Homo sapiens: one gene and its partners. The protein of the gene in region 1 binds, or shares a complex with, the protein of each later gene. Each region holds a gene or a part of one and is shown on either strand. Other genes may lie near its edges. A codon is read from its position in the direction of its gene.

The links.
Region 2: the proteins of POGLUT1 (region 1) and NOTCH1 are in contact, whole or in part, in a crystal structure (PDB 5UB5), measured with the Homo sapiens proteins. Residues at the interface, in NP_689518.1 of Homo sapiens: Met103 (codon at 7,453), Phe104 (codon at 7,456), Pro105 (codon at 7,459), Ser106 (codon at 7,462), Arg107, Asp133, Gly170, Pro171, Ala172, Val173, Trp174, Pro178, Thr179, Gly180, Thr214, Asn239, Gln240, Ala241, Val274; in NP_060087.3 of Homo sapiens: Asn454, Glu455, Cys456, Val457, Asn459, Pro460, Cys461, Gln462, Asn463, Asp464, Ala465, Cys467, Gly472, Glu473, Phe474, Val485, His486.
Region 3: the proteins of POGLUT1 (region 1) and F7 are in contact, whole or in part, in a crystal structure (PDB 5L0S), measured with the Homo sapiens proteins. Residues at the interface, in NP_689518.1 of Homo sapiens: Met103 (codon at 7,453), Phe104 (codon at 7,456), Pro105 (codon at 7,459), Ser106 (codon at 7,462), Arg107, Arg132, Asp133, Pro171, Ala172, Trp174, Pro178, Thr179, Thr214, Asn239, Gln240, Ala241, Val274; in NP_000122.1 of Homo sapiens: Asp108, Gln109, Cys110, Ala111, Ser112, Ser113, Pro114, Cys115, Gln116, Asn117, Gly118, Gly119, Cys121, Gln126, Ser127, Tyr128, Arg139, Asn140.

What each region holds. Positions count from the first base shown.
Region 1 is NC_000003.12:119,463,987-119,472,000, forward strand, and holds the start of POGLUT1 (protein O-glucosyltransferase 1 precursor), read left to right. Parts: upstream 1-4,976; 5' UTR 4,977-5,035; coding exon 5,036-5,120; intron 5,121-5,833; coding exon 5,834-5,924; intron 5,925-7,322; coding exon 7,323-7,466; intron 7,467-8,014. UniProt on the Homo sapiens protein: Dual specificity glycosyltransferase that catalyzes the transfer of glucose and xylose from UDP-glucose and UDP-xylose, respectively, to a serine residue found in the consensus sequence of C-X-S-X-P-C.
Region 2 is NC_000009.12:136,494,042-136,501,142, forward strand, and holds the end of NOTCH1 (neurogenic locus notch homolog protein 1 preproprotein), read right to left. Parts: intron 6,807-7,101; coding exon 6,511-6,806; intron 5,219-6,510; coding exon 5,071-5,218; intron 4,956-5,070; coding exon 4,858-4,955; intron 3,518-4,857; coding exon 2,030-3,517; 3' UTR 392-2,029; downstream 1-391. UniProt on the Homo sapiens protein: Functions as a receptor for membrane-bound ligands Jagged-1 (JAG1), Jagged-2 (JAG2) and Delta-1 (DLL1) to regulate cell-fate determination.
Region 3 is NC_000013.11:113,108,690-113,115,790, forward strand, and holds part of F7 (coagulation factor VII isoform b precursor), read left to right. Parts: intron 1-2,000; coding exon 2,001-2,161; intron 2,162-5,062; coding exon 5,063-5,087; exon of another isoform or gene 5,088-5,157; coding exon 5,158-5,271; intron 5,272-5,312; exon of another isoform or gene 5,313-6,079; coding exon of another isoform or gene 6,080-6,095; intron 6,096-6,270; coding exon of another isoform or gene 6,271-6,378; intron 6,379-6,970; coding exon 6,971-7,101. UniProt on the Homo sapiens protein: Initiates the extrinsic pathway of blood coagulation. Serine protease that circulates in the blood in a zymogen form. Factor VII is converted to factor VIIa by factor Xa, factor XIIa, factor IXa, or thrombin by minor proteolysis.

The DNA of each region.
Region 1 (8,014 bases):
GTCATGCGTCAGCATCCAACCCTGCGCTTATTGTTTGCTAAGAACTAGACAGATGCTGTGGTTACAAAGCGAATACCACAAAAGCTCAGAGTCTAGTGGAAGAGAGGCGACACTAAGAAAATACAGTAATTACCATTTGTTACAATATTAAAAGTGTGTCCAAGGTCCAGAGATAGCATGTAACACTAACGAATTCTGTGGGATGGTGGTGATGTCAATACCAAGAAAAGCTTTGCAGAGAGCTTGGGGTTTCAGCCAAGACTCCACAAAGGCATAGGGGCTTTGTGGGAGAATGGCAGTCCTCCTGGAGAAGTGGCAGATAAAAAGGTAAAGATCTGTGAGCAACGTCATCTTGAGTTCAGGAATTGACAATAGTTTGGTATTAGAAGAAGATAAGAGTGTCAAAAGGAGCATTTGTGTAATCTTTCACTCCAGAGATTTTAATCTCCTTAATAGAAAGTTGTTTGTATTGATTGAATGATTAACCTTTATTAAGAATTTTGTTGTGTCAGGCACTGGATTAGTAGCTTTACACATTTCATTTAAATCTCACATTTTGATAGCTTCTACTATGGTTATTATTTTACAGAAGAAACTGAAGTTAAGAGAAGTTAAGTAGCTTGTTGAAAATAGCCTGCCTGGCCAGGCAGGGTGGCTCATGACTGTAATTCCAACACTGGGAGGCCAAGGCAGGAGGATCACTTGAGCCCAAGAGTTTGAGACCACCCTGAGCAATATAGTGGAACCTTGTCTCTATGAAAAAAGTAAAAAAATAAATCGGGCATGGTGGCTCACACCTGTAGTCCCAGCTACTTGGGAGGCTGAGGTGGGAGGATCACTTGAGCCCTGGAGGTCAAGTTTGCAGTGAGCCGAGATTGTGCCACTGCACTCCAGCCTGGGCAACAGAGAGAGACCCTGTCTCAAAAATAATAATAATAATAATAGAAAAAAAAGAAAATAGCCTGGCTAATAAGAGCCAGAACCAGAATTTAGAGCCAGAATGACTGATATCGAAACCAGTAAAGTTGCTAATATTCCCAAATATTCCTAATGTCCTAATGTACCACAGAGCTGTCACTTAGGAATACACACAAGTCTCCAACTTAGGATGGTTTGACTCACAATTTTTCAACTTTATGATGGTGCAAAACCAACACTCATTCAGTAGAAACTGTACTTCCAGTACTCGTACAACCATTCTGGTTTTTTTTTCATTTTTAAATACAGTCATGTGTCCCATAATGATGTTTCAATGAAAGACCACATAAATGATGGTGAGCCCATGAGAGTATAATAAAACTGAAAAACTCCTATTGCCTAATGATGTAGCTGTCTTTATGTTGTAGTGCAATGTATCCTGGTGTACACAAACCTGCACTACCAGTTGTATAAAAGTATAGCACATACAATTATGTACAGTATAACATACTAAATAATGATAATAAATTACTTTGTTACTGGTTTATATATTTACTATACTATACATTTATTGTTATTTTAGATTGTACTCCTTCTACTTATTTTAAAAAAATGAAAGTTAACTGTAAAACAACCTCAGGCAGGTCTTTCAGAAGGTATTCCAGAAGAAGGCATTGTTATCCTAGGAGATGGCAGTTCCATGTGTGTTCTTGACCCTGAAGATCTTCCAGAGGGACAAGATGTGGAGGTGAAAGATGGTGATATTGATGATCCTGACCCTGCATAGGCCTGACCCAAACACACACGTGTGTGTTTGCATATTAGTTTTCAATAAAATAGTTTAAAAAGTAAAAAACAAAATAAAACATTTTAGAAATAGAAAAAAGCTTATAGAATAAAGATAGAAATAAAGAAAATAGGTCGGATGCAGTGGCTCATGCCTATAATCCCCACACTTTGGGAGGCCAGGAGTTTGACAGCAGCCTGGCCAACATGGCGAAACCCTGTCTCTACTAAAAATACAAAAATTAGCCAGGTGTTATGGTGTACACCTGTAATGCCAGCTACTCAGGAGGCTGAGGCACGAGAATTGCTTGAACCTGGGAGGCAGAGGTTGCAGTCAGCTGAGATAGCACCACTGCACTCTAGCCTGGGCAACAAAGCGAGACTGTCTCAAAAAAAAAAAAAGAAAAGAAAAGAAAGGAGGGAGGGAGGGAGGAAGGAAGGAAAAGAAAGAAAGAAAAAATATTTTTGTATGGCTGTACAATGTGCTTGTGTTTTAAGCTAAGTGTTATTACAAAGTCAAAAAGTTGAAAAAAAAAGGTTTGTACAGTAAAAAAGTTACAATAAGCTAATTTATTACTGAAGAAAGAAAAACGTGTTTATAAGTTTAGTATGGTCTAACTGTACAGTGTTTATAAAATCTATAGTAGCGTAATGTTCTAGGTGTTCACATTTACTCACCACTCACTGACTTATCCAGAGCAACTTTCAGTCCTGCAAGCTCCATTCATGGTAAGTGCCTTATACAGGTGTATCATTTTTACTCATTTACTGTACCTTTTCAATGTTTAGATACACCAATACTTACCATTGTGTTACAATTGCCTGTAATATTCAGTACAGTAACATGCTGAATAGGTTTGTAGCCTAGGAGCAATAGGCTATGCCAAATATCCTCAGTATGTAGTAGGCTATACTAGCTAGGTTTGTGTAAGTATAATCTATGATGTTCACACAACAAAATTGCCTGACACATTTCTCAAAACATATTCCCATTGTCAAACAACACATGACTGTACTGCACACCTTCCTGGAAGTAGAAAAATTTTTGACTAAAGTTTCATTTGGATTCCAGAAGAAATATGCTATAGTTTTGGATATACATTTTTTTTCCTGTCTGTTCACCCAAAGTGAGCCTCACTCATACAAAAACTGGGTGGTTCTGCCCTGGTGGAATATAGACCAAATGCCCATATGGGTGTAATATGTGACCGATACGGCCCATTCCTAGGTAATCAACATTATTTTCTCTTCCACCATTCCTTAACGTGCATCCTAAAGCCTCCACTACTGTCAAGCTAAATTTGATCCCCACCTTCTGCAAATTATGGCTCCCATATTTTTAGTGACTCCAGCACAATATTCCTTAACTGTAACGTTTCCTTTTCTTCAGTACAAAATATACCCCTCCTACCCCTTTCTCCAGATTTCCACTTCATATTGATCTTTTCCTCCACTGAAACCAGTGGCACTTAACTATTGCCTTAAATTGTAAACTATCTCTAAGGAAGCATATTTGTCTTCCCTACTAGTTCTAAACTCCTGGGAGCACAGATTTGATCTTGTACTTCCCTGTATTTCCATATTTCCACAAGGCTTAGGGATATAACCATGTACATTTTAGAAAATAGATAAATATTGCTGGGCGCAGTGGCTCACGCCTGCAATCCCAGCACTTTGGGAGGTCGAGGCTGGTGGATCACCGGAGGTCGGGAGTTCGAGACCAGCCTGACAAATATGGAGAAACCCCATCTCTACTAAAAATACAAAATTAGCCGGGTGTGGTGGCGCAAGCCTGTAATCCACCTACTCAGGAGGCTGAGGCAGGAGAATTGCTTGAACCCAGGAGGCGGAGGTTGTGGTGAGCCGATATTGAACCATTGCACTCCAGCCTGGGCAACAAGAGCGAAACTCCATCTCAAAAAAAAAAAAAAAAAAGAAAATAGATAAATATTTGTAGTTCTATGATTACTAAATATATCTACACTGACCTATATATACCTGTATAAAGATATATACCTGTACTATACTATATACCTATATTGTCCAGTATCATGTTGCCCACTGTCAAGAAACAAAATTTCATCAAATTTAGTTTAAAGTTCTTGGCCAGGCATGGTGGCTCACGCCTGTAATCCCAGCACTTTGGGAGGCCGAGGTGGGCAGATCACCTGAGGTCAGGAGTTTGAGACCAACCTGGCCAACACGGTGAAACCCTGTCTTTACTAAAAATACAAAAATTACCCGGGCATGGTGACACACTCCTGTAATCCCAGCTACTCGGGAGACTGAGACAGAAGAATTGCTTGAACCCGGGAGGCAGACGTCATAGTGAGCCAAGATTGTGCCACTGCACTCCAGGCTGGGCAACAGAGTTAGACTGTCCTCTGTCTCAAAAAAAAAAAAAAATCGAATTGGCTTTTATTAGTGATTCATGAATCAGGCAGCATCTCATCTATAAAACAGAAAAGTGTTCTAATGAGCTGAGCAGAAGGGGTTGGGCTTATAGGCAGAAAAGGGCTGAAGAAAGCAGAAATAAGGAACAAAAAGCAGATTGGTCATTTTGAAGTTACTTTCCTCAAAGAGTTACATCAGAGGGGACTTCTTTATCATGCCAGCTCAGGTATATGGGCCCCTTCTCCTATTTGTTGGAAAACTGACCCCTTTTAAAGCTGAGTTTAATTACGCAGCACCTAGGACAAGTTGCCTCCATTCTGGTTTTGTCTGCTCTCTTGAGGCCTAGTGCCAGAGTTCTGTCCAAAACAACGACCTCCCATAAACTTTATTTAACACCATTGATCTTTTTTCCTACGTCTAAGTCACCCCAACTGTTATAAATTCCTATTACAAAGGGATCCCTGCTATGCTAATTGCAACCTTTGGGGTCTAACCGTGCTGTACACACACACACACACACACACACACACACACACACATGCTCAACAAATTTATGCTATTTGATAAGAGGCAATTTGACGTCAAGAGAAGAACTGTTTGGCCTAGGCTCTATGCCAAGTCTTGGTTGTGCCACTAACCGTGAAACATACCCTCTCTGACCTTCAGTTTTCTGGCTGCAGACCTATTTTCCCAGGGGTGCCAGGGAGGGAGGATAGGCAACTGGTCCATTCGTTTATCCTCCCCACCTTCCCGGCGCAGCCTTCTCAGGGAAACTCCGCCTCAAGGCTGGGGACTGGAGGAAGGGTGGTGGGGCCACGGTGGCCATCTTTGTGCGGGGCGACCCGCCGCCCACGTGCTGCGGCTCCCGGGCCATCTTTGTGCGGGGCCGCGCTTCCGCCAGCGCCGCAGCGGGGAATCTGCAGTAGGTCTGCCGGCGATGGAGTGGTGGGCTAGCTCGCCGCTTCGGCTCTGGCTGCTGTTGTTCCTCCTGCCCTCAGCGCAGGGCCGCCAGAAGGAGTCAGGTGGGCTCCGGGCAGTGCCGAGCCTGCCCCTTGGGCTCGGGGTCTGGCCGGAGTCCCGAGGCGCTCCCCCGCGCGGCCGGCTCCCGGGAAGATGCCGTGGCCGCTGTAGCTCGGAGCTGGGCAGAAGGCACCGGGGCGCCTTGCGGCGGAGAGTGAGGTGCCGGGGTCTCTGCTCCTGCTCTGGACCCTGGAGAGTAACCCATTCCCCGGAATTCAGAATGACAGGGAGGAGAGGGAATTCCCCGTTCACCCGCAGGAGGCGTGGCCCGTGCTTGGCTACTCTGGACCTGCCTGAAACACTGAGGGGTCGGGGATGGGGGCAAATGTCGTGCGCGCGAGCGTGTGTGTATATGCGTTGCCAGAAGAGAAGAGGGGTTTAATGTCTGTAGCTTTTAACTGATCCTCTTTGTGGAGTTCAATTTGATTAGTAGAAAGTGAGAGTCCGCGTCACTATCCATAGCATTCTGAGGGTTGAGCATTAAGCTTGGGAATTTTCCAGTTTCTTGGACACCTGACAGCCGGATAGAGGAACAGACTTGACGTGAGCGTGGGAGTTGCACACACAAAAATTCCTCCCTAGCGTTTCGTTTCCATCAGTGGGATGGGAAGGGGATTTCTGAAAGTTTTGGTCTTCTGTTTCTTCTGTTGGTGTGGTGTCAGCAAATAACATTCAGGAAAATTTTTTTAACTCTCATTTACTTCACTTTTTAAAGGTTCAAAATGGAAAGTATTTATTGACCAAATTAACAGGTCTTTGGAGAATTACGAACCATGTTCAAGTCAAAACTGCAGCTGCTACCATGGGTGAGTTCTTTTCTTTGATGTGTCTTTGAGAGTTTAGTTGCTGTCACAGGAAGTATTCTAACATCCTTGAGAGATTTTGGTTGCAGTGGTCAGAAAGGCAAGGATGTTTTTCTATTTCTGGGGAATAAAAATGCTCTCGCATGGGAAAGGCTCAGGTGGTGTCAACCTAACCACTGACTCACTGCGGGATTCAGTGCATGTGCATCTGTTTTTCCCACTGGGCTGCAAGCTTCCTGAGGTCAGGGTCTGTGTCTTATTTGCTGTTGTCTCCCTGGTGCTAGCTGTCAGTGCGTGCTCGATAAATATTGTTGAGGAAATAAACCCATCTATCGCTGAATCTAGTCCTAAATTTCCTGATGGTTATCTTTAGAAAATGCACATCAGGCTGGGCATGGTGGTTCATGCCTGTAATCCCAGCACTTTGAGAGGCCAAGGCAGGTGGATCACCTGAGGTCAGAATTTCGAGACCAGCCTGGCCAACATGGTGAAACCCTGTCTCTACTAAAAATACAAAAATTAGCTGGGCATGATGGCACGTGCCTGTAATCCCAGCTACTCGGGAGGCTGAGGCAGGAGAATCGCTTGAACCCGGGAAGCAGAGGTTGCATTGAATCCAGATCATGCCACTGCACCCCAGCCTGGGTGACAGAGTGAGACTCCGTCTCAAAAAAGAGAGAGAATGCACATCAGGGCCGGGATGAGGTATGGTAGAAAGATAACTCTGAAAACAGACTTGGGTGTTGGTGCCGGTACTCCCACTGGTTACCCCTGTGCCGAGCCACTTCAACTCCTCTGGGTCTCAGATTCTTCATCAGCTAAATAACAGGGTCTTTTAAGCTCCTTTTTATGTTATTTTTGACTCCTCAAAAAATTCCTTGGATGCTTATGATACTTATTGAAAACTTACTATGCACTCACTTTAAAAGGAATACAAAATAGTGTAATTTTGGTTACTGCTGTCACGCTACCAGAGTAAGGGCTTGTGGGGGAGAGTGTGGACCAGACAGACCAGAACAAGAGAGTCAGTGCTAGACTGTAAGGCGTAAACTTCACCTCCTGTGGGATTGGGAGGAGATGCCAGGAGGACTGAAGTGACTAGAAGGACACAGGTGTGGCATGAGTAGCGAAAGAGAAATACAGAACTGCCAAGGGAGGGGCAATCCAGATGGAAGGAGGAAGAAGAGACATTGACCCGCTTTTTACTTTTTATTGCTTTATTGCATTTGATGTTTCAGATTACCTACAGGGCTTCTAGGGAAGAGCTGCTCATTCTCACTCTCGATTCTTTCCTTCCACTTACTGTGTTCTCTAATACGAAACCTAAATGCACTTAGGAAGTAGGTGGAATGGCACCACTCTCTTGGCCTGCTTTCCTTGATGACTCCCATTCTTTCCCAGTGTCATAGAAGAGGATCTAACTCCTTTCCGAGGAGGCATCTCCAGGAAGATGATGGCAGAGGTAGTCAGACGGAAGCTAGGGACCCACTATCAGATCACTAAGAACAGACTGTACCGGGAAAATGACTGCATGTTCCCCTCAAGGTAAGAGTTAACGAGGTAGATATATCTTCTGACTTTATTACATATGGGCTTGATACCCTTTTATAGAGGAGCCAATTCATGGGACTAACAAGCAGATCCCTCCTCACATTTCAGGCGGACTATGAAATAGTGACGAGCTCTTCTCCTTGCCTGGGAATTTTTCTTGCGAGCTCCTCTCAAAGCCTGTCTCCTCTGTGAGGCTTGGTTCATCACTGGTTGTACTGGTGGTGGCTCTGCCTCTTCTGCTCCTTCCCTGGGATATAGTAGCGGCAGGACACAGGCTGATGAGGCCTAGCAGGCCTAGCAGGAGGGAGCTAGGCTGAAGGAGGAAGAGGAATTGGTTGAATGTCTGTCATCGGCCAGTGTAGTTCTAGATACTGAATATTCAAGGGGAGGTGGTAGAGTCAAGAGGAGTAACTAGATGGGGTGGTGGTGGCTCACACCTGTGATCCCAGCACTTTGTGGTGGATTACTTGAGCCCAGGAGTTGGATTATGGCAAATAATCCGGCAGTGGCAAATAATACAACAGAGTGAGACCCTGTCTATT
Region 2 (7,101 bases), on another chromosome or scaffold:
GAGCTCCCTGAGGGGCTGTCCCCAGGATGGCTGGGTGGGACCTTCATCCCTCCGAGGCTGAGAGGAGAAGAGCCCCGAGCTGCCAGGAGGGCCAGACTCACGCATGGTGTCCTGGGAGCCGTGTCACCCCAGGCACGAGCCCCACCTCCCATAGGGCTGCAACCCCCTTGCTGCTGTGTGTCCATCTCCCTACAAAGGGCCTGGACCAGGCAGGCTGCAGACACCATGGAGTCCCTGGAGGCAGCGTGGTCCCCACACCCCCGTGGGCCAGGACTAGGCAGCCTCACCGTCACTCTCCCAGCAGAAGGGGCCCTCGACTCCTGGCTCCCTCAGAGCATAGCAGCCCTGCCTCCCTCCCAGAAAGGGAGCCAAAGGCCAGAGCAGAGGGGAGTGGAAGCCAGATCACCATCAGTATCATTTTTATTGCAAATCAGTTAACAAAAAAGATGAAAAAAATACATCATCTACAGTTCCTCATGTAGATCACTTTTAAAGTCTTTTTCTGTAAACTACACTCTATTTTATAAAACACAGTAAAAATCAACATCTTGGGACGCATCTGGTCATGCCCCCTGGGGATGGCACCACGCGGCCCCCGTAGAGCCGGGGGAGGCTGCCCTGAGGAGTGCAGGCGGCACGGCAGCGGAGCGTCCCCAGTGCATGGGCGGCTAAGGCTCCCCGAGCTGAGCCAAGTCTGACGTCCCTCACTGGCATGACACACAACAGACTCATTCATTAAGATTTTTTAAACAAAATCCACCTTTAAAAACATATTTACAGACATTTTTTCTGCCATAGGCTATACTTGGTATTGCAAAAATCTGCTCCTCCCAAACTAGGAGGGGTGGCCCAAGGGCAGCCCCCGCCTCCCTCCAGCCCCTGCCCGACCGCATGCCCCCTGCCAGGGCTGCGGGGACAGGACCAAAGGACGCAGCCCACGGCGTTGCACAGCTCAATGTGCCCGGCTCTGGCAAGTCTCCTACAAAACACGGGAGCCCACGGGGGGTCGGGTCCCGCGAGCTGGGGCCCAGGCTGTGTTGCTGGAGCATCTTCTTCGGAACCTGGGGGACACTGTGCAGGCTGAGGTGCTGGGGCCGCCACCGGGGTCAGCCCAGGCAGTGTCTTTCCCCAGAAAAGGGTAGGATGCCTCCGTGTGTGACCCAGGCAAGTGCCACAGTCCACACATCTCATGTTTGACATGCATGATGCCTACATTTCAAGAACGGGCAGGGGGCCGGGGTGGTTCTGGAGGGACCAAGAACTTGTATAACCAACGAACAACTACATAATACTGAACCTGAAACAAAGATTCATGATTGGTACCATGGGTGCACTCTTGGCATACACACTCCGAGAACACATTTTCACAAGCATGCTTGCAAGAAACCATCTAAAACACATGGCAACATCTAACCCATATGCTTTCACTTGTTTCCTATTTCAGATGCAAATTAATCCGCGTGCGGAAGGTGAGCCAGCTTTGCCTCCGTTTGCCTCTGGATGCAGCTTCTCCTAACAGGCAGGTGATGCTGGTGGAGCGGCCGGGCTGGCTTGGGGTTGGGTGGGCGTCGGGGAAAGGGCGCGGCCTGGACGCCCCAGGAGCTTTTTGGACTATGCTCGTTCAACTTCCCTTCTCCAACATCATTTCTTTTTGGATTTTGAAAAAAGGAATCAATAAATAAATGGCATTTATAAATCATGAATCTTTGTTTATATTTTATAAACACAGAAGAATCTTTTCATCCTACGTAGGAAAACCCTGGCTCTCAGAACTTGCTTGTTTTCTCAGAATAGATAAAAGTTTCTACCTGGGGCCAGATAAAACAGTACATATAAATAAAAAGGCAGTGTTTCTGTGTAAAATAAAAGTACATAAATAAATACTAAAAAAAATTAAAATCCTCGTTCTTATTTTGTATAAAAACATGTGTTTTAAAAAGGCTCCTCTGGTCGGCCCTGGCATCCACAGAGCGCACACAGACGCCCGAAGGCTTGGGAAAGGAAGCCGGGGTCTCGTGGGGCGCGCCGTTTACTTGAAGGCCTCCGGAATGCGGGCGATCTGGGACTGCATGCTGGTGGGAGGGCTGGAGACGCCCTCGGACCAGTCGGAGACGTTGGAATGCGGGGACGAGCTGGACCACTGGTCAGGGGACTCAGGGGACGGGGTGAGGAAGGGGTGCTCAGGCACCTGTAGCTGGTGGCTGGGGGTGTTGTCCACAGGCGAGGAGTAGCTGTGCTGCGAGGGGGGCGTCAGGAACTGGGCTGCGGTCACGGGTGGGACCAGCGAGGATGGCAGCGACGTGGGCAGGGCGGGGCTCTCCTGGGGCAGAATAGTGTGCACCGCCAGGCTGCTGGGGCCCAGTGGCTGCACGTCTGCCTGGCTCGGCTCTCCACTCAGGAAGCTCCGGCCCAGGTGGCCGCTGGCTGCTGAGCTCACGCCAAGGTGCGGCTGTGGTGGTGGTGGTGGCGGCTGCAGGCTTTGCTGCTGCTGGATGTTTGCTGGCTGCAGGTTCTGCTGCTGCATCTGTAAGTTTTGTGGCTGCACCTGCTGGGTCTGCACCAGGTGAGGCTGGGTGGCCAGCCGGGTGCTGGGCAGGCCCTGGTAGCTCATCATCTGGGACAGGGCGCTGGCAGCAAGGCTACTGTGCAGCGGGCCTACCATGCCATGCTGCAGGGAGGGGGCCTGTGTGCTCAGGGGGCCTGGTGCCACACTCCCCCGCAGAGGGTTGTATTGGTTCGGCACCATGCCGCTCTGCAGCCGGGACAGCCACTCGCATTGACCATTCAAACTGGTGGACCCGCCCACAGTGAAATTCAGGGCCCCTCCGCTGCTGGAGCCCAGGACGGTGCTGGTGCCAGAGGCCACAGGCAGGTGGGAGAGACGAGGTGGGCCAGTCTCAAAGGCCAGCCGGCCGCCCCCACCCAGCGCCGCCATCTCGGGCTTGGCCGCCACGTTCAGGTGCCCGATGCCCAGGTGGGTGTCGGGCATCCCAGGCAGGTGGTTGAGGGGCACGGACGGAGACTGCTGGAACGGGGAGGGCAGCAGTGGCGGCGAGGCCACGTCTGACAGGTAGCCATGGGGTGACTCCAGGGAGTCCACGGGCGAGAGCATGCCGGAGCTGTCCAGCAGGCAGCCCTTGCCGTCCTGGGACTTCTTCCTCCGTGCCTTGAGGTCCTTGGCCTCCTTGCTTCCACAGGCCAGGCCTTTGCTGCTGGGCTTGCGGACCTTCTTGCCCTGCACGCCGGGCTTGAGGCTGCCCAGGTAGCCGTTGGGCGAGCAGAGCGGGGGCGACAGGGTGGGCGTGCCCCCCAGCGGGGCTCCGTGCAGCTGCGGGCTGCGCACCAGGTTGTACTCGTCCAGCAGCCTCACGATGTCGTGATGCATGCGCTCCTGTGCGATGTCGCGCGGCAGGCGGTCCATATGATCCGTGATGTCCCGGTTGGCAAAGTGGTCCAGCAGCACCTTGGCGGTCTCGTAGCTGCCCTCCCGGGCGGCCAGAAACAGGGGTGTCTCCTCCTGGGGGATGAGGGCGGGGGCCGGTGAGGGGGGCCAGGCCAGGCGTGGGGACCCTCCCCAAGGTTCCATCACCAGAGGAAGCAGCAGTACAACCTCCTCCGCGGGGTGGGGGCAGGCAGGCTGCTCCTCAGGACCCCACCCCAGCGTCCTGCAACCACCTAGCCTGACTCTTGTTAAATGTTAAGGCTTTGATACATCTTCTGAAACCCACCCAGAGAGGGGATCTGTGCAGTCCTCTACCCTAGATCAGCGGGGCTCCACCTCTATGGGGGGGTCACAGACCCCACTGAAAATCTAACCAACTGCAGGCCCTCTTCCCTGCCCCCAATAAGGCACAAAAGGAAATTCCTGGAGCGGTTCAGAGGCACCGGCGAGGGCACCAGGGAGGGAGCTCGTCATCTGGACGGCCATCAAGCCACCCTGGTGGCCACCAAGCTCCTTCCTGGGGTCTCCTCTGTGCGGTGGACACGTCACAGGTCTGGGTGAGGCTGCTGTGTGGGAGTGGGAAGGGGCTTCCCAGGCCTTGATGCCCTCTGGGGCCCAGTCTCTGTGGGGCCATGCTGCCACGGACTGGGGAGCGCCTGGGCCAACATGCCCCGGTGCCCAGGCCCGCTGTGTGCCCTCACCCAGGAGGGAGAGACGCCTGAGCCTGACATGCCAAGGGGGCAGCAGGAGTTGGGGGCGGGGGTGGGGGTTCTGGCGGCAGGGAGGTGGGGGTGTCTGCACCTGTGCCCTGAGCACCCAGGGGAAACCAACAGCAGCTGCAGGGCCAGGAGCTGCAGGGCCAGGATGAGGGCTGGGGGTGGCTCCCCTTGGATATAGTCCTGAGACTTCTTCCTCTGAGCCTTGAGGTCCTTGGCCTTGGTGAACACACCAAGAGGCCCCGCCCCGCAGGGAGCTGCCGCCACGCGTGTTCTGGCTCAATCTGCACCACCTGCGTCACCACATTCCCATCCCCACCCCCGCCTGGTGACAGCTGGGGACAGAAGGTGAGGTCCAGGTGACGGTGACACAGCAGTGGCAGCAGCAGCGTTCCCCACGCCAGGCTGTGTGCCCCGCCATGACTGCCGCCCAGGAGGGTAGGGCTGGGTCTGAGGGGCGAGCCGCCGTGTCCTGACAGCTGGACCTGCACTTGGAAGGGCTCCATAAACGGGGGCTGAAGGAAGGCAGGAGCACTAACGAGGTGCCCGCATCATGCGGGTGGGGCCCACATGCGGGCCCAGCGACCCTCGAGACCCTGTGGGTCAGGCCCTTGTGTCCCTGCGCCCCGTGGGTTTGGCCCTCACTTCTCTGTGGATTCAGCCCTCACGTCTCCCCTGGCATCCCAGCCTCGCGCTCACCCTGTTGTTCTGCATATCTTTGTTAGCCCCGTTCTTCAGGAGCACAACTGCGGCATCCACATTGTTCACGGCGGCGGCCCAGTGCAGGGCGGACTTGCCTGCGTGAAAGAAGCAGATGGGGTAGGTTGGAGACCAGCTGGAGGCAACCCAGTCCCACCCGTCCCTGTGGCGGTCCCGCCCCACGACAGAGCAGCCGTGCCCCCGTGGGCTCACCCAGGTCATCTACGGCGTTGACGTCGGCGTGTGAGTTGATGAGGTCCTCCAGCATGCCCTCCACGGCCAGGCGGGCAGCCAGGATCAGTGGCGTCGTGCCATCATGCATGCGGGCATCCAGGTCTGTGGCTCGGTTCCGGATCAGGATCTGGGCAACAGGGAGAGGCTCAGGCGGGTGCTGGGCAGACGTACACCGATGCCTCCTGCCCAGAACGAACGCCTGGACGGGAAGCCCCACTGTCTTCCGGACACAGACGAGACCCTCCTGAGATCGGCACGGCCGGGCAAGACGAAACGCCATGGGGCTGCCCCTGAGGAGGGGCCCGGATGGGGGCAGGGGCTGTGCTGCCCACAGACAGGCCCCTTGGTGACAGTGGGATCCATCGTGACCACGTGTGGCCTCATTTAATCCTCACTGTGGTCCTAGCTGCCATGACCACCTACAAAACAGAGAGGTCAAGTCCCTGCCCCCAACGGCGGTTACAGCTGGCACTCAGGAAGCCGGGCTCACGGCCCTACAGCCGTCTCAGAACCGCCGAGCTAGTGTCCGGCTCTGCCCAGAGAGGGGGTGGGCAGCCCTTGTAATGCAGCCGGGTCTTGGCATCTGGCAGGAGGAATGGCCCCTGCTCACTGGCGGGTGCAAAAGGCAACTTGGCCTGATTCCTGCAAAGCACCTGGGAACTTCCACATCTGTGCAAAGAAGGCAGCTGAGAGAGGCACACACCAAACCCGCACGGGGCTCCCTTCCACGCTCTTTCTGCTCACCTACATTTATTTCTGCGAGATGACAATGTGTCACCTGAGCTAAGAAATCAGGAAATGAGAAGCTCTGTGGTAACTCCCCGGGCTGTGCCCATCTGAACCTGCTTGCTCCAGGGCCGCCTGGAGCCTGGGGACTCGCAGCAGGGGTGACTGCAAAGGCAGCCCCTGCCAGGGACACTCCCTGGAGACCCAGGCATCCAAATCCCTAAATCCATTCTTGCCACGAGCTCACCGGCAAGCTGAGCCCTAGGTCTGCAGGCACCGAGCGGCAGCCTCTAAACCCTGCTTCTCACTGCCACAGGCTACGCCGGCAGCCAAGGTTGAGGGAGGGGCGGGGCTGCGAGGGGCTGCAGCAGTGGAACCTGGACCTTGAGCAAGGCCCACAACCCTGATGGAGCCTGTTTTGCTGGGGGTGGGGAGGTGCTGCCTCACTCAGCAGATCCCCCAGGCCTCCTGCCAGACCCGCCTCTGCCTGACTTCCCTGGAGAACACAGATGGGCCCGACGCCCTCCCCCTCGCACCTCGCTGACTGCGAAGGTCCCAGGTGGAGGCACCAGTTGTCCCGGACTCAGCTGTGCTCGGGGTCAGGCTCCCAGGGCCACGTAAGCCTGGCCACTGCCCCAGACCACCAGGCGGCCCTGAGGAGGGCAGGTGGGCACACAGGCAGCCACTGCCTACCTGGAAGACACCTTGTGCGTCGGCAGACACAGCCGCATGCAGCGGGGTGCGGCCCATGTTGTCCTGGATGTTGGCATCTGCGCTGGCCTCCAGCAGGCGCTTGGCGGCATCAGAGCGTGAGTAGCGGGCGGCCAGGTGCAAGGCGGTCTCGCCCGTGCGGTCTGTCTGGTTGTGCAGGCTGGCGCCCTGGTAGATGAAGTCGGAGATGACGGCCGGCGCGTCCTCCTCTTCCTCGCTGTTGCCCGTCTCCAGGCCGCCCCCGCTGCAGGAGGCGATCATGAGCGGGGTGAAGCCATCTGCAGAGGCAGAGACGGGTGCTCAGTCTGGAGGGCCGGTCCCCAGCTGCAGCCCAGGGGGAGGGGGGCAGCAGCCCCAAGCTCAAGGGGCCACGGTGTGGATGCACCACCCAGCACTTGGTGGCCCCGTGCACACAGCCACCAAGGGGCAGCTGAAGTCCGCCTGGGCTGCTCAGTGGACAGAGCCGAATCCAGCTTAAACTCCTGGCGGGCAACTGCTTCCTGACCTGCCCAAGACCTGGCACCCAAAATCCACCCAGGAAAAAGAGGACCCCAGAAGCATGCAGTTAGAAAA
Region 3 (7,101 bases), on another chromosome or scaffold:
TGAGTGTCCCGGGGGTGTGGGTGTCCCGGGGGTCGTGGGTGTCCCGGGAGTGTGGGTGTTCCAGAGGCGAGGGTGTCCCGGGAGTGTGGGTGTCCCAGGGGTGTGGGTGTCCCGGGGGCGTGGGTGTCCCGGGAGTGTGGGTGTCCCGGGGGAGTGGGTGTCCCGGGAGTGTGGGTGTTCCGGAGGCGAGGGTGTCCCGGGAGTGTGGGTGTTCCGGAGGCGAGGGTGTCCCGGGAGCGTGGGTGTCCCGGGGGCGTGGGTGTCCCGGGAGCGTGGGTGTCCCAGGGGTGTGGGTGTCCCGGGGGCGTGGGTGTCCCGGGAGTGTGGGTGTCCCGGGGGAGTGGATGTCCCGGGAGTGTGGGTGTTCCGGAGGCGAGGGTGTCCCGGGAGTGTGGGTGTTCCGGAGGCGAGGGTGTCCCGGGAGTGTGGGTGTCCCGGGGGCGTGGGTGTCCCGGGAGTGTGGGTGTCCCGGGGGCGTGGGTATCCCAGAAGTGTGAGTGTCCCAGGGGCGTGGGTGTCCGGGGGGCGTGGGTGTCCCGGGGGTGTGGGTGTCCCGGGGGTCGTGGGTGTCCCGGGAGCGTGGGTGTCGGGGACTGCAGGGACATGGGCCTCCCCTCCCACTCCTGCCGCCCAGGGCACCTCCTGTGAGGACTCGGAGTCCGTGAGTTCCCACCTCCTTGAGCCCGATTCTTTGGTGTCCCCGCCTGCATCCTCAGCCTCCTTCCAAACCAGACCAGTTCTCTAGGGGCGTCGACGTGTGAAACTGATTTTAAAGAAAACAGGCAGTGGCCTTTCTCTCGGCCCCACGTGGCCCAGTAGCGCTCACCTTCCGTCCCTTCTTCCGCGCTCAGTAACCAATTTAGGCCGCTCCTGCAGAACTCGGGCTCCTGCCCACCGGCCCACAGCGTCCACCTGAGGCCTCGTCCTCCCAGCAAAGGTCGTCCCTCCGGAACGCGCCTCCTGCGGCCTCTCCAGAGCCCCTCCCGCGCGTCCTCTCAGCCCCGCTCGCCTCCTCCCGGGGCCTCCCTCTCCCGCCTGCCCCCAGGCCCGTCTCCCCTCGCGGGCTGAGGCAGGTTCGGGCAGCACGGCCGCCCCGGGGCGGGGGTCACTCTCCACCACCGCGTGGTGCCCACAGCTCACGGCGCTCCCGGGTGACGGTCCCCTCGGCTGTAGGGCGTCCTGAAGAGCGGCCTGCTCGGAGCTGAGCGCACGGGGTTGCCTCGCCCTGGGCGTCTCTGGCCCTCACCAGCCCCGTCTTCCCATGGGCAAAACGGCGGTCCTGTTTGTCCACAAGTAACCGTCGGGGTTACGGAGGGGCCAGGAGCTGCGGCGGGGGGCTGTGCTCTCAGGACCGGCCCCAGGAGGATCCGCGCGAGGTCTGGAGCTCTCAGGGGTCGCGGGGGACAGAGGGGCCCCAAGCGGAGGCGGGGAAGGCGGCAGAAGCCCAGGACCGCCAAGAGCTGGCGAGGAAGCCCGGGGCTCGCTGTCGGGGGAGCCGGGCAGGGGCCGCGCCTCGGACCAGGACGGAGGCCTGGGGAAGGCGGATCTGGCCGCCGGAGACGCGGTGCGGGTGGAGACGAGGGATTTGGATTTCCGCGGGCGGCTGTACGGATTTCCACGCGCGGTTCACGTGGGCCCCAGGGGGTTGCCCGGCACCCGGGGCCGCGCCGCCTTCTCCTCGCCGGCATCGACCCGCAGCCTCACGTTTACGCGGCGGCGCCCGCAGCCCCCTTCGGCCCGGCTTCCGCGCGTGCCCCCGAGCGCGCCCTCGGGATCAGCCCCCGGAAGCAGAGAGGCCAGGCCGGGAAGGATGGGCGACGGGGGTGGCTGACCCGGGAGCACGGCAGGGAGGACACCCAGCCAGGCCCGCGAGCAGCGCCGCTCCCCTCCTCCAGGACGGGCGGGAACCTGCGATGCCCCCGCCGCGTGGGCCGTGGGGCGGTCTCCGAGGCACTGGGCGGGGCACGCGGTGGGCGCTTCACGGAACTCGCATTTCCCAGTCTTCGTAACCCAGGAGGAAGCCCACGGCGTCCTGCACCGGCGCCGGCGCGCCAACGCGTTCCTGGAGGAGCTGCGGCCGGGCTCCCTGGAGAGGGAGTGCAAGGAGGAGCAGTGCTCCTTCGAGGAGGCCCGGGAGATCTTCAAGGACGCGGAGAGGACGGTGAGCCCAGCCTCGGGGCGCCCCGCGCCGCGGACACTGCAGGCGGCGGTGAACCAGGCCGCGTGGGGCCGCCTGCGTCTCTTTGGCTGCGGCTGTGGGCGGCGAACACGCAGCGGCGCCCGCGCGGCGCTTTCTGCGGGGGTCGCTTTCCGCCCGGGGTGACTCCGCTTTCCTGGGCGATGCCCCCCACCCCCAGGCACGCGCTCTCCCCGTGCGGCCGCACCGCGCATGCCGGTTTTCACATCAGAAAATACGATTTGCAAAGCACACTTAGGGTGTCCCCCTTAACTTCCCAAGGGAGTCCCCCCAGTCCCCGAAGGGTCCAGGGCAGCCTGCGCATCGCAGACGCGCGCGGCTCGCAGAAGGGACGTGGTGAGAAGCTGGCCCACAGCATGCCACCAGCGGCACCTCCTCAGGGCACGTGTCGGGGAGAAACAACACTTAGGGACCTGGGACTTTCTCCAGCTCACGCTCACGGGTCACCTCACACTCCAAGATCACCTCAAAGAGGACACCTCACACAGGGCACACTTCACACTCACAGGTCACCTCACACTCACAGGACACCTCACACTCACAGGGCACACTTCACACTCACGGGTCACCTCACACTCCAAGATCACCTCAAAGAGGACACCTCACACAGGGCACACTTCACACTCACAGGTCACCTCACACTCACAGGACACCTCACACTCACAGGGCACACTTCACACTCACGGGTCACCTCACACTCCAAGATCACCTCAAAGAGGACACCTCACACAGGGCACACTTCACACTCACGGGTCACCTCACACTCACAGGACACCTCACACAAGACACCTCACACGGGGCACACTTCACACTCACAGGTCACCTCACACCCACAGGACACCTCACACAGGGCACACTTCACACTCACGGGTCACCTCACACTCACAGGACACCTCACACAAGACACCTCACACGGGGCACACTTCACACTCACAGGTCACCTCACACCCACAGGACACCTCACACAGGGCACACTTCACACTCACGGGTCACCTCACACTCACAGGACACCTCACACTCAGGGCGCACTTCACACTCACGGGTCACCTCACACCCACAGGACACCTCACAGAGGTCACCTCACACAGGACACCTCACACTCAGGGTGCACTTCAAACCCACAGGTCATTTCACCTCACACTCACAGGACACCTCACACAAGATACCACACGGGGCACACTTCACACTCACAGGTCACCTCACACTCACAGGACACCTCACAGAGGTCACCTCACACGGGGCACACTTCACACTCACAGGTCACCTCACACCCACAGGACACCTCACAGAGGTCACCTCACACCCACAGGACACCTCACACAGGACACCTCACAGAGGTCACCTCACACCCACAGGACACCTCACACTCATAGGTCACCTCAGTCTTACAGGACAACTCACACTCACAGGTCACCTTACTCTCACAGGACACCTCACACTCACAGGTCACCTTACTCTCACAGGACACCTCACTCTCACAGGACACCTCACACAGGGCACACTTCACTCCCACAGGTCACCATACCTCACACAGATCACCTCATACTCACAGATCACTTCATTCTCACAGGATACCTCACACTCAGGGCACACTTCACACTCACAGGTCACACCTCACACAGATCATCTCATTCTCACAGGACACCTCCCTCTCACAGGTCACCTCACACTCACAGGACACCTCACAGAGGTCACCTCACACCCACAGGACACCTCACAGAGGTCACCTCACACGGGGCACACTTCACACTCAGGTCACCTCACACCCACAGGACACCTCACAGAGGTCACCTCACACCCACAGGACAACTCACAGAGGTCACCTCACACAGGACACCTCACAAAGGTCACCTCACACCCACAGGACACCTCACACTCATAGGTCACCTCAGTCTTACAGGACAACTCACACTCACAGGTCACCTTACTCTCACAGGACACCTCACACTCACAGGTCACCTTACTCTCACAGGACACCTCACACAGGGCACACTTCACTCCCACAGGTCACCATACCTCACACAGATCACCTCATACTCACAGATCACTTCATTCTCACAGGATACCTCACACTCAGGGCACACTTCACACTCACAGGTCACACCTCACACAGATCATCTCATTCTCACAGGACACCTCCCTCTCACAGGTCACCTTACACTCATCTCACACTCACAGGTCGCCACACCTCACACTCACAGGATGCCTCACACTCACAGAACCACATCTCATATGCACAAGACACCTCACACTCAGGACACCTCATGCTCAAAGAAGCCTCACACTCACAGGAGGTCCAGCTGTCTGAGGCAAAGGCTAACATGACCCTTTCCAGACAAATTGAGGATGGTCATGCCTAGCATTTTTATACACCTAGTTTTGAAAGCATTTCTCATCTGTTGTATTCTCACAGCACCCCGTGAGTTTAAGTTCAGGTGGCCAACAGTTTCTTCAGCAATCACTTTTTTCTGTGGAGTGCTTTTGCTGTTTGTGGAATATTTTGCATCTGCTACTGCACCCTCTCCCCGTATGTGTGGCCACCCTGTCAGAGGTGGAGCTGTGGCTCAGAGCCTGTGTACCTCGTCCCAGGTCCACAGCTCAGCGACAGAAGAGTCAGGGTTGAACCTCGGGTGTTCTGACTTGGGAGCAGGAAATGTGTGGTCACCCATAGTTCCAGATGTCCTGGGGAGGGGCCAAGATTAGAAGAAACCTACCTCAGCTCCAGAGGAAAGTCTGGCTTCCTGAGCCCACCCCGCCAGACCCAGGTCCAAGTCCCCCAACCCCAGTTCATGGTGTGTCCAGTGCTTACCGTTGGGTGCTCTGGTGAAGGTGCATCTCACGAGGCTTGCTCTCTTGTTCCTTCAGAAGCTGTTCTGGATTTCTTACAGTGGTGAGTGGATGATCACCACCAGTCCTGCCTGCAACCCTTCTCAGCTTACTGACACCAGCCCACTCCACAGATGGGGACCAGTGTGCCTCAAGTCCATGCCAGAATGGGGGCTCCTGCAAGGACCAGCTCCAGTCCTATATCTGCTTCTGCCTCCCTGCCTTCGAGGGCCGGAACTGTGAGACGCGTAAGGCCCCACTTTGGGTCCCATATTTGCAGAGGGCCCTGGGGAGCTGGTGGAGGTGGCCTGGCCAACCGGGCTGCAGGGTGCACAACCTGGTGGGGTGTGTAGGCCGGGCATTCAGGGCTCAGCCCCAGTTGGAAATTGGTCTAGGTGACCTTGAAATCCCTTCCAGTCTGAGGTCTTTGACAGGGACCCAAGGTTCTGATTATCAGACTCAGTGGCCCCTTGGGCTCCCGGCCCTGGGCAATTCTCAGCCCTCGAGATGGCCCAGCTGAGAGTCCCTGTGTCCCTGTCCCACTTCCACATCCCACCACGCAGGACCGCTTGGTAAACTTCCCCTTCTCTACTTTCCATTACAAAGGTTTGAGGGGTTTGTTTTTTTTTTAACCATCTGAATATTAAATTATCACAAAGTTTGAGGCCCCCAACCTCCCTTGGGTTCAGTAATTCACTAGAAGGACTCATAGAATCCACTGAAGTGGATACACTCACAGGTACCGTTTATTACAGCAAAGGATGCAGGCTTAAGTCTGCAGAGGGACCAGGCACAAGCTTCCCCTTGTCCTCTCCCTGTGGGGTCATGTGGACAGTCCTTAATTCTCCCAGAATGACGTGTGACGAGACGTGGGAAGTACTGCCAACTTGGGAAGCTCTACGAGCCCCGGTGTCCAGAGGTTTTATCAGGGCTCAATCACATAGACCCAGCTGACCACCCGCATGGCTGACCTCAGTCTCAGCCCCTCCAGAGGCTACGCCGATAGTGCGGCCCAAGGCCCCACCATACATCACATTGTCAGCTAGACCATCCAGCATGGCTCAAGGCCCAGGTAAACACCAACATTCCCTCAGGCAAGACCTTCCAAGGGCTTAGCGGTCATTTCCCAGGAGCCAAGGCAAAGGCTACCCTTTCTCTGGCACAGCAGTTCATCCTTGACCACCCAAGACCACATTCTTACACTGAATGAGCTCTCCTGTGCAGCAGCCATTTTCTTCTCTAAGCAGAAGAGAGCCCAGCAAGCTGGAGGAGGCTGAAGAGAGAGGCTTCCTGCTGGTCATCTGGGTCCAGAATGCCTGGAGATCTCTGCTCAGCCCTGGTGCCCAGCAGCCCTGGTGTGCATCCTGCAGGGCAGGCCTTCCCGCCGGAGTCCTGGACTTGCTCAGGGCCACTCCCCTTGCCCATGTCAACCAAAGTCAGGCTGCCGGTTCTGCTTCTTCTGTCTGAGCCCATGACCAGTGCTGGGACTAACTGTCCCCAGGCGGGCTCACGGTGGTACGAGGCCAGCTTGGAGAACTGTCTCAGCTCTCTGGTCCTCTCGTCAGTTGGGTCTCTGATTGGAAAGTCCCTTGGACACTTTTACCATCCCCATTGGACTTTCACTTTCCCCCAGGCTCCCATCAGCTGCTCGGAAGAGTGGTCACCCTGGAGGCCACTGCCCACCAGCCAGGCACCCCCCAAATGCAACCGCAGCCAGCACTGCCAGCCACTGGCAAGGCTGTTCAGACATGTGGCTCCTCTGATCCACGCCTTGTCCTTTGGATCAGTCCACGGAGCAGGTGGTGCCAAGCTCAGGCTCTGTCACCCACAGCTCAGTGCCACCTTCCAGGCAGAACACCACTGCTGACCCAGGGCATGGCCACCCCGGGGGCTGGCTCTCGCTGACCCCCAGAAGCCCCTCTCAGGGTGTCCCCTTCCTGTCCCCAGACAAGGATGACCAGCTGATCTGTGTGAACGAGAACGGCGGCTGTGAGCAGTACTGCAGTGACCACACGGGCACCAAGCGCTCCTGTCGGTGCCACGAGGGGTACTCTCTGCTGGCAGACGGGGTGTCCTGC